2 separate regions of the Homo sapiens genome follow, and region 2 is linked to region 1. The links come from fine-mapping of genetic effects on gene expression. A gene starts in region 1. The other region holds a variant in brackets. All regions are shown on one strand. Distances are between the middles of the regions. Region 1 holds the start of SHROOM1 (shroom family member 1). Region 2 holds the start of GDF9 (growth differentiation factor 9).

Region 1 (5,514 bases):
GGACTGCATCCTCATGGTCCCTAGCAGAGAGTTGCTTAGTGTGTGCAAGAGGTGAGTGGTAGGTGGGTGGAGTGGGTTAATAAGAATCGCTCTGGACTGCGTCCTCATGGTCCCTAGCAGAGAGGTGCTGTAGTGTGTGCAAGAGGTGAGTGGTAGGTGGGTGGAGTGGGTTAATAGAATTGTTCTGGACACTGTGTCCCCATAGTTTTCAAGAAATATAAGTAAAAAACATAACCATTTTTTTTTTTTTTGAGACAGAATCTCACTCTGTTGCCCAGGCTGGAATGAAGTAGCGTGATCTCGGCAGACTGCAGCCTATGCCTCCTCGGTTCAAGCGATTCTTGTGCCTAGGCCTTCCAAGTAGCTGGGACTACAGGTGCGTGCCACCACGTCCAGCTATTTTTTTTTGTATTTTTGTAGAGACAGGGCTTCGCCATGTTGCCGAGGCTGGTCTCGAACTCCTGAGCTCAAGCAATCTGCCCACCTTGGCCTCCCAAAGTGCTGGGATTACAGGCATGAGCCACCGCCCCAGCCAACATGAGCAATTAAAAATTTTTTGTTGTTGTTTGCTGGGCTGTCTTTCTTCTATTTTGATGCTGCTGTGAGACTCTGTGGATCAGGGTCTTAAAAATATTAAAAGTCTTTCAGGCCGGGTGCGGTAGCTCATGCCTGTAATCCAGCACTTTGGGAGGCCAAGGTGGGTGGATCACCTGAGGTCACGAGTTTGAGACCAGCCTGGCCAACATGGCGAACCCCGTCTTTACTAAAAATACAAAAATTAGCTGGGCGTGGTGCCCGGTGCCTGTAATCCCAGCTACTTGGGAGGCTGAGGCAGGGAAAATTGCTTGAACCTGGGAGGCGCAGGTTTCAGTGAGCAGAGATCCGGCCACTGCACTCCAGCCTGGGCGACAGAGGGAGACTCTGTCTCAAAAAAGCAAAACAAACAACAAAAGTCTTTCAAAGCCGAAAGGTTCTTAGGCACTGTCTTAAAGCCTAGCGCTCCAGCTGAAGCTGGTGCCTGAGTCCAGATGGTGTTGAAGAAGGAGCAGGGCCCAGCGGGCACCACTCTCAGAAGTCGGGCTCAGGTGTCTCCTGCCTCCGAACCCAAGAAGACCCAAGAAGACAGAGTTCCTCAGGCTCCCAGTGTCCCTAGGAAGTGGCAACCTTGACTCTTGGCCAGAGTTCAGAGTCCTGGTTATTAACACCAATAAACCTTTATTTGCCAGGGATACTACCATGGGAGGACACAGCCCCTGAGCCCAGCCCTGTTGATCCTGTGGGAGCGGGAGGGCAGCGGAGGACAAAGGCAGAGACCTGAGAGCCGGAGAGGCTCATCAAAGGGTCCCCAGCCCCTCTCAGGAACGGAGCATTTCTTGGCAGAGTGGTATTCATAGGACAGAGTTTGGGAAGTCGGGGCAGGGGAGCCTGAGGACACAGCAAGGAGAGCTCAGTGGCAGGTGCAGGCAGAGCGTTCTTTGGAAAATGGAGATCCTGGAAGGTGAGGGCCTCGAGCGCCAGTGTCCAGCCTTAGTGGGTATGCATATGTCCAGCTCCCTAAGGACACACTCAGGACAGCTAAGGTGCACACAAGTCCAGGGGCTTCCCCGTGCTCCGCCCCCCTCTCCCCCACCCCGGTAGCAGGCTGGAGGGCCCAGACCATGCTGGGTAGTGGGAGAAATGGAAAGAAATGGGACAGGGAACAGGAGACAAGAGCCCATGGTGGGAGTCAAAGAGCTGGAAGAGTTTTGGAAATGGGGGTCTGGGGGTAGAGTTGATCAAGGGCCGAGTTACTCAGCGGGACAGGTGGGAGGCACGAGGCCCTGGCAGCTCTGTTTTCTTGGCCGGGCTTGGGGGGGAAAGCGGGTAGCCGTCAGGCGCCTAAGGGCCCGCCCTGGACCTCCCCACCGAGGGAGGTGTCAGGCCCCGAGGGACCCGGCCCCCGAGCATCACGGACGCGCTGGAGGCCGGTGGGCGGTCGCCGTAGTCGCCCTCCCACCACCTCGCTCAGGTTTCTCCGGCCTGGGGCAAGAGGCCTGTGGCCCGCGCGGGAACGCACTGTCCACCCTCAGACCTGGGACTGGGCCGGCGCGCGGACGCTACCAAGAGGCTGCGGCTCCCGCCCCCGCGGCCGGACGTGGCGCCTCCCCTGAGGCCGCGGCCGGAGCCTGGAGGTGGGGTCGGAGTCAGAGCCCGGGGCTCTGATGTCACCGCGCGGCTGCGACGGCCCAGGAGCGCGTCTCGGCGGGAGCCTCAGGTACGCGGCGGGGGCGGGGGAGCGGGAAGCGGGCGGCTGGGTCCGCTTCCCCCGGGAGGCCGGCGGGGCTGCGGGCGGACGGGGGTGAAGAGCGGGCGGCGAGGCGGTGGTCGCGGGGCAGCCCGGGCATCGTTCGGCCGGGACGTGTCTGGCTCGGCGCCGCGTCAGGTTGCGCCAGTGGAGTCGGACCCCAGCGCGCCTCTCCCAGCTGCAGAGCTGCAGGGCGGAGAGGCGGCCCACTCTAAGCTGGCGGCGCGGCTCAGGGGCGCGGCTGGGCGCGCCGCGTGTGGCGCCGGCGGGCAGCGCGGTCTCACTCCGCCACCCTCCGCTCCTGCCCTTTGTCGCCAAGCATCTGGAGAAGCCGGGTCCTTCCCTCCCGGGCTCGCGCTGTCCCCTGCGCGCGATCCTTCCCCGACGGTGAACCCAACGGGAAAGGCCCAGAACTGCGCGGGGCTGCGGCCATCTGCTGTCGAGCCGCTCCGCGTGTCTCTGCCGCCCCCTGCGGCCGCCGGGGCCTGCGCCTCTCTCCCTCCCGTGCCTCGGCTCCCAGAGATTGAACCCCAGGTAACCGGGTCTGTCCACGCCCGCGGCCGCCTCTCCCCGGGTGTCGCCAGCTTCCTGCATTTCCTGTGCATGGCACGGAGCTCGGGTCTCCAGAGACTCTGCATCTGGGGTGCAGCGACCGATGAGCCCGTAAACCAGTCGCACACTCGGAGCGTGGATGCTGCGTGGGGTGCGCTGTCAGCGCGGACAGGCTGGGAGAACGGGGGACGCTGGGGACAGGGAGAGCCGGTGAACTTCCCAGAACGTCCGCCTAGCCAGACCCAGCTGCGGGTACTGGGTTTTGAGACGTGGTCCAGTACCCAGGAACTCAGTCTGACAGGGAGACAGCGCCTACACAGTGAGCCCAGTACTGAGGGAAGACCCGCTGGGAGGGGCGGCCTGGATAGCCCCTCCACAGAGAGGTCAGATGTGAGGTGGCCTTGAGGGAGGTATGATGTAAATCCTGATCATTCGTTGTATTTGAGGCTGTCCGTTCTCCTGTGCCTCCTCGGTCGCCTTACTTGGATCTGTTCCCATTGCCTTGGTGTGATTTTATCCACCGGAAACTGTCTTCAGCTATTTCCCCAGTAACCTCTAACTAAAAACCTGGGTCTTGCCTGGTCTACCCTCCCCTGCTGAACTCCAGAGCCACATCCCAACTGCTGCCTGACTTGTCACAGACACCATGAAGCCCAGACTGAAGGAGCACTGGCCCCCTTGACAATTCCTCAGCCCCAGCTCCTCCTTTCAGACTGGTGCCTCCACCTGCCAGACCCCTAGCTTTGAAGGCCAATCTCATCTTCGTCTCCTTCCTCTCTGGCTCCTTCATTCAGGTGACAAGTATACATCAAATGCCCACCCCAACTCCCCCTCCCAGGACTCCAATCTGGTGTCTTTCTAGCGGGGAGTCTAGGTTGCTCCCTCTGCTCTGGAGAGGCTTGGCAAAATGCCTGCAGAGCTCCTTGAGCTCCACCTCTGAACTCCCTTTCAGCAGCCGGCACAGGCATAACAGCCCAGCCCACAGGTACCACTGCCACTGAGGCAGGGACCCCTAAGGTAGGGCTACCCCCAGCCACAGGGGCTGGCTGGACTGCAAGAGGCTCCCTGCAGCCAGACAAGTATGAAAATGCCTTGTTGTTTTGTGCTGAGGCCCCCCAAAACACACCAAAGCAGCTGGGCCCTCTTGGCATGGTAGGTTCTGCAAAGCACCCACTGTGAGGAGCCTGCGTGAACATCAACCTGATAGGGCCACCAGTGCAAAAGCATCTTCAACAAGTTACAGTCAATAAGGAAACACATGTGTAGACACATTTTTATTGCCCATTCAAGCTGTTTTTATTTGCTGAATTCAGAATCCTTTAACATAGTAACTCACAAATAAGATAGATTTTCATAGATTTTCAAGACCTCTTTTGAGGAAACATCTTGTGTTTGGTGATCCCCATCTGTAGCTGCAGCAAGCCAAAATGGGCAGGATGGGTGACATGAGCTAGTGCTCCCAAGCTGGACTCAGAAAGAGTAGGAAGAGAAAGGGCTAATGTCTGAGCAGTCGGGTGGGCTTCCTAGATGAGGGGACTGTCCTCCCAGGAGCTGCTACTCAGAGTAGTTTCTTGTCCTCCTAAAGTTTAGAGTGGAAATACTTTGCAAAAGAGGTCCCCAACCCTAAGTGTGAGGGCTAAGCTCCTGGGCTTAGTAGGCATATACAAATGCCCCCAGGTGGGTGACATCAAGATGTTCTGGTCCTAGGTCTGCTGAGAGCCTCTCCTGGGAATGTTGTAGGTACTGCCTTTCCCTTTTAGGAAACACCATATCCTCCTACCACTAACCCCCATCCTTGCCCTAACCAGCAATCTGTAACATCCTGGGCCTCAGGGACGTGGGTGGAGGGTGACTCTGAGCTCCAGATAGTGTCTAGGAGGCTCAAATAAGCCTGCTTTTTGGTCCTCACCCTAGCCGTGGGCCACCCTACTCTGCACTCCCTACCAAGCAGCTCAGAGAATGGAGGCCAGCGCCCAAAAGTCTCCATAGTTCATAGGGAGCCCCAAACCTCAACACTGCCCTTTCCCAAGCCTCAAAATTTCTCTTACCCTGACCCAGGCACACCCACTCAACTCTTACCCTTGATCCCCCTCCCAGGACCAGAAGGGATTGATTTCTGGTGAGTCCTGCCCCAAGCTGTGCTTGCCTGCTCTGTTCGTACCTAATATTGCATGAGGAACCTGGCCAGTGTCTATGGTGGCAAGTGCTTCACCCATTCTGTCCTCTTCCCCAGAAAAGACTAATAGGGAGGGAAGAAGCGTGCGCAGAAGCTAAGGAACTCTCTTCCTTCTCTACCAAGGCCACCCCTACATCTACTCCCTGCAAATCTGTTATTTCCCTTGACATTCAGCAAATATTTGGGGTTTTGTTTTGTTTTGTTTTGTTTTGTTTTGTTTTGAGACAGAGCCTCACTTTGTCGCCAGGCTGGAGTGCAGTGGCGCGATCTCGGCTCACTACAACTTCCGCCTCCCGGGTTCAAGCGATTCTTCTGCCTCAGCCTCCCGAGTAGCTGGGACTACAGGCGTGTGCCACCACGCCCAGCTAATTTTTGGTATTTTTAGTAGAGATGGGGTTTCACGATGTTGGCCAGGATGCTCTTGATCTCTTTACCTAGTGATCCGCCCACCTCGGCCTCCCAAAGTGCTGGGATTACAGGCGTGAGCCACTGCACCCGGCCC
Region 2 (5,000 bases), 36 kb before region 1:
TGGCCTCCTGGCACAGAAACAGAAAACTGCTGTGGAGGCTAAGAGATCACCTCATCCGTTTTATAGCTGATATCCCCTCAGGCTAAGGCCTGCCTTAGGAGGAAAGGCAGTAGAGCAAGCTTGTCCAACCGCAGTCCTGGGCAGCAAGCAGCCCAGGATGGCTTTGAATCCGACCCAACAAAAATTTGTAAACTTTCTAAAACGCTGAGGGTTTTTTTTGCCATTTTTTAAAGCTTATCAGCTATTGTAATGTTAGCGTATTTTATGTGTGGCCCAGGGAAGCTAAAAGATTGGACACCCCTGCAATAGAGCATAGTTTTAAGAGCATCACTTTAGTGCAAGACTCCACCATTCACTGCTGTATAATTTCTGGCAAATTACTTAATCTCTCTGTGCCCATTTCCTCATCTGCCAAATGAGGATACGTTAAAGGTGCTTGTGAGGTTTAACAGTTCATTTGTGTAGCTAAGAAGAGTATTTGAGGCCCAGAGCACCATGGCTTACGCCTGTAATCCCAGCACTTTGGGAGGCTGAGGCGCACAGATCATCTGAGGTCAGGAGTTCCAGACCAGCCTGGCCAACATGGTGAAACCTGTCTCTACTAAAAATACAAAAAATTAGCCAGGTGTGGTGTCCTGCACCTGTAATCCCAGCTACTCGGAGGCTGAGACAGGAGAATCGTTTGAACCCAGGAGGCACAGATGGCAGTGAGCCGAGATCACACCACTGCACTCCAGCCTGGGTGAGAGAGCAAGACTCCATCTCAAAAAATAAAAAATAAAAGCGTCCCTGACACATACTAATTACAATATAGTTAGTAGACTTTATTGTTGCTATGGGAGCAGAGGGCCAAGAACCAGCACTCGCCATAGCCCATGTCACCCACAAATGGTTAGATGCAGGAGTACCTGCAGCTACTTTCTTGTAGATAATGGAACAAAGGGGGAGCCCTGCTCTTTCACCAAAACCCGAGACCAGGCAAAACTTCAAGACTCATGCTGAGGAGGGGCGCTTCATGAACTTGAATATTAGTGGTCACACAGGATTCTACTCACAAAAATGTAATATCACAACAGTGCAGACCATAGGAAGTTTATTGTGTCTTTGAGACACTACAATGCAGACTCCTCTTCCAGAGAAAGGTCTTTCAGAGACAGGGAACCGTCATCCGGATGCGTTGCTCATTTGTCATTTTCATAGGCAGCTGGATTCTTCCTCTTGGATCTCTCGAACTCTTCAGTCCCCCATGTGTAGATAAGATAAAACACTACAAACTCTTTAAAAATTAAGAGAGTAAACAGAGAGCACACATATAAGACATATAGAAGAAAAAAAAAGGTCTCAGTCCTCTTGTCTTCTTTAAAGCATACACTTCAGTAGTTCTTAGCATATCCAAGGCCATGCAACTATCATCACTATCTGCTGCACGTTTAACACAAAGCATTTCACCACTGGTAAGAACTAAATAAAGGTGACCTCAGAGGAACATGCTGGAATCACCCGAGTGACCTTGGGCCAGTCATTTCAGTTCTGTAGCTCAGTTTTCCCCGTGTAAGATGGGGAGGATAATATGACCAGCTTAAGGGCGGTCAGGAATATTCAATGAGAAAGGTGTGTACGGCAAGTTACAGAGCGCCTGCCCGGCCGCCAGCGCTCAGAGGGGAGGCGCAGTGACTGCTGCTGCTGCTGGGGTCCAGCCTCCCGCTCCCGCGGGCCCAAGGCACTCACGCGGCACCACGCGAAAGAAAGACTCCCGAATGCGGCGCAGAACATTGGGGATTCCTTTAGTGAAGACGTGCGGATAGGCGCGCTGCTCGAACGGTGACAAGCTGTAGCTGATCACATGCCGCATCCGCGTCAGATTCCCAAACTCGCGGCCCATTGTGGCGGCGGCCCTGCAGGACCGAGGGTGGACA[G/A]GCGCTTGGCTCGCTTTCGCGAAGCGCCGCAGTCCCCGCGGGGGTCCATCCCCAACCCCAGACTCCTGCCCCTGCACTCCTTATCCTTTCCCAGCCCAGCGGGGCGCCCCTAGCCTCCCAGGGTCCACGAACACTGCACAACCAGACCCCACTCACGCACAGGGCTCAGCTCGCCCTCCACAGTCACCGATCCGGTTGACTCGTTCGTCATTTCCGGCAAGGTTGGAAGCCGCTCTTGGAGGTCGTGAGGTAACTTCCGGGAGATACCATTTTCCTACTGTCTCTAAGGGATGACGCCTTTGTCCCAGAAAGAAGTGGGCTGACTGGGTGACCCGTAGGTGGGAGGTGCCTTGGAGGCCCTGCCCGGGCCGGTGGGGTGGAGCCTAGCGGAGGACGTCGGGGATTGAACTGACTTTGGGGGACAGTGGACAGGCGGAGGCGCTCACACTTCTCCTCAGCCCTCGGCTTTTCTGTGGAATCCCAGTCAGGAAGCGGCCGAATGCGGGAGGCGGGGGAGGGAACAAAAAGGTGACGAGGAAGGGGCCTGCCGACCTCCGGGGCAGCGCTGGCCAGGAGCTTGGGGCCTGCGAGTCTTCCCAGCTGTAGACAGAGCGCCTCTGAGCCCCGAGGCCGGGCCGCCCCACAGCAGAGGAGCACGAGGTTTCATTTGGCCTTGGCCAGTAGCTCAAAGGGGGCTTCGTTATTTTCAGGCCATGAGCGACCCCAGCACCAAAATCAGGGACACACATCGAAGGCTTCTCTTGGACTCTGTTTTAGAGTCCCCTGGCAGGCTGTTAACGTTCCCAAGAGATAATACAAACGTTTCGTCAGTTTCAGCCACAAAAATAATCAAATAATCGTCAATTGATGAATGCTGAGGCCGCCTCGACAGCAGCCAGCGTCCTCCCCAGATGGTTTGCGTGGGGTGGGGGGAATCACGATGCCCCAGTTCTTTCTTCTCCCCACGTGAGAAGCAAGGAAAGTCGGGTGAGAGGCCTTATTATGTTTTCCCTGAAGTGCATTCTGCTTGACGATGCTGTTGTCAATGTACAGCTCGCCCTGAGGTGTCTTGTCAGTGTTTTGTTAATGGAATTGCTGGCCATATTTTATCTAGGACTAAGCTCTCATTCAACAGTTGGCTGTGTTTTATAACACTACTTACGGACCACGGAGGCTCGGCAGGCAGTCAACTTGTATTTTGCAGACATACCTTAGTTTTCTCATGTAGGTACTGCACAAACTGGCTTCGTATCTTGCACTATGAGTGTAGGCTGACTCTTCCAGCATAGTCTCCTTCGGGGTGGCGCTGAATATCCCCTCATTTCAGCTTTTCATGGTGCTCCTTTGCCTCATTTTTTTAAACCATAATGTCTAGCCTGGTCTCAGCTCCAAGGCAAGAACAGAAATACAGGTAAGGACAGAAATATTGTGGCAAATTCTACCACCATTTGGATGAATAATAATAAAACGTTCATTTATTTTATAGCATCTGCAAACATCCCAAAACCTTTCAACCAAAATATGTATAGATGAGTGTGCAGACCAAAGTAAGGACATCAGTATGTTACATTTAAAAATAAGTCAAGGTTAAAGGCGGTGTCCTCTTTTAAGAACATCGCAAATACAATTCCAGTACTCCAAGTACGTATTCTGTACCCAGCCACCTGGGAGGACTGAGAGACCTAATGGTTTTCTGCTTTCTGGAACTTCTATGCCAATTGTGACTTTCTCACCCAAATTTGTAAATTCGCAAATTAACATGCAGCGAATAATTACAATTGTAAACACCTGGAAGTGGAAAAGGCCGTGAGGATAAATTGAGAGGAAGAGTAAACCTAATACCATAAGTTGCATACCAGCAGATCTGAGTATCGTCATGAATAATTGGTTAGCTTTTCCACATGCCTTAGAAGTTTCAGCAAGCACCTAGCGAACATCTTAATCCAAATTTCTCAAAAAATGAGAGATTTTATTTAAGATCATTCCTCAATTTATCTTAGACTTTCAGCTACATAGTTAGTCCGGTAGTGTAACAGTAACGGGTTTTACGTAAATGCCAGGGGAAAAGAGAGGAAAGCTAAATAACCAAGTAAATCTGTATCTAATTAACAAATTGGCTAAATAAGGTGTTATCAGCTGCTTGATATAGAGCTGATAAAATCTTCAGCTAGGCATACTTGAGGCCTGATTACAGAAGTGACCGTAGTCCACCCACACACCTGAAATTTATTTAAGAGACCAAGCTAGGCTCTTCCTGGCCTTTAGGAAGAGGACTGGCATGGAGAAATATGTTCCTCACTAGTTCTCCCAAGCCATGGCACGTCCCAACAAATTCCTCCTTTGGTTTTGCTGCTTTGCCTGGCTGTGTTTTCCTATTAGCCTTGGTTCTCAGGCTTCTGGGGGAGAAGCTCAGATTGCTGCTAGTGCTGAGTTGGAATCTGGGGCTATGCCTTGGTCCTTGCTGCAGCATATAGATGAGAGAGACAGAGCTGGCCTCCTTCCCGCGCTTTTCAAAGTTCTATCTGTTGGGCGAGGTGGGTCACCTAGGCTGCAGCCAGACTCCAGAGCTTTGCACTACATGAAGAAGCTCTATAAGACATATGCTACCAAGGAAGGGATTCCTAAATCCAATAGAAGTCACCTCTACAACACTGTTCGGCTCTTCACCCCCTGTACCCGGCACAAGCAGGCTCCTGGAGACCAGGTAACAGGTATGTGAAAGCAGATTGGTTAACTGGGTGGAGGGAAGATGATAGACACTTCTGCATTTCAATTACAGAAAGGAGCTGAGCCTAGTTCCTTGAATTGTATTTTATTTTGCATAAAACTCAATATCCAGTTGAAACAAATCTGGGACTTGAGCTTATTGTTTATTCCTAACGCTCTCATTGGTTAAGGTGGGCTAATATGATGGAATTTTAAAGCAACACCAGAGACTTAATGGCTTTCAAGGCTGAGCGGAAGTGCTGCTAGAGAATGTTAGCACCTCTTTCTGTTCCACCAAGCTTTTGGCCCAGAAATGGACCTTAAACATCTCTTACAGCTATTGGTGTGATGTGTTAAATAGGATATTTTTCTCTTGTT

The links.
Region 2: its variant is fine-mapped to the expression of SHROOM1 in whole blood (INTERVAL, PIP 0.90).

Annotation. Positions count from the first base shown.
Region 1 is chr5:132,827,334-132,832,847 of GRCh38, reverse strand. It overlaps SHROOM1 (shroom family member 1), which reads left to right and starts at 2,201. Exons shown (of 10, transcript NM_001172700.2): 1 at 2,201-2,254; 2 at 5,241-5,387. RefSeq lists silencers at 1,893-2,312, 2,523-2,832.
Region 2 is chr5:132,863,764-132,868,763 of GRCh38, reverse strand. It overlaps GDF9 (growth differentiation factor 9), which reads left to right and starts at 2,295. Exons shown (of 2, transcript NM_005260.7): 1 at 2,295-4,627. The coding sequence starts at 4,231. UQCRQ (ubiquinol-cytochrome c reductase complex III subunit VII) reads right to left here and starts at 2,122. Exons shown (of 3, transcript NM_014402.5): 1 at 2,077-2,122; 2 at 1,729-1,895; 3 at 1-1,276. The coding sequence starts at 1,882. The coding sequence ends at 1,182. RefSeq lists enhancers at 1,784-2,284, 2,285-2,785, 1,644-2,843. The variant G/A (reference allele first, on the strand shown) is at 1,917.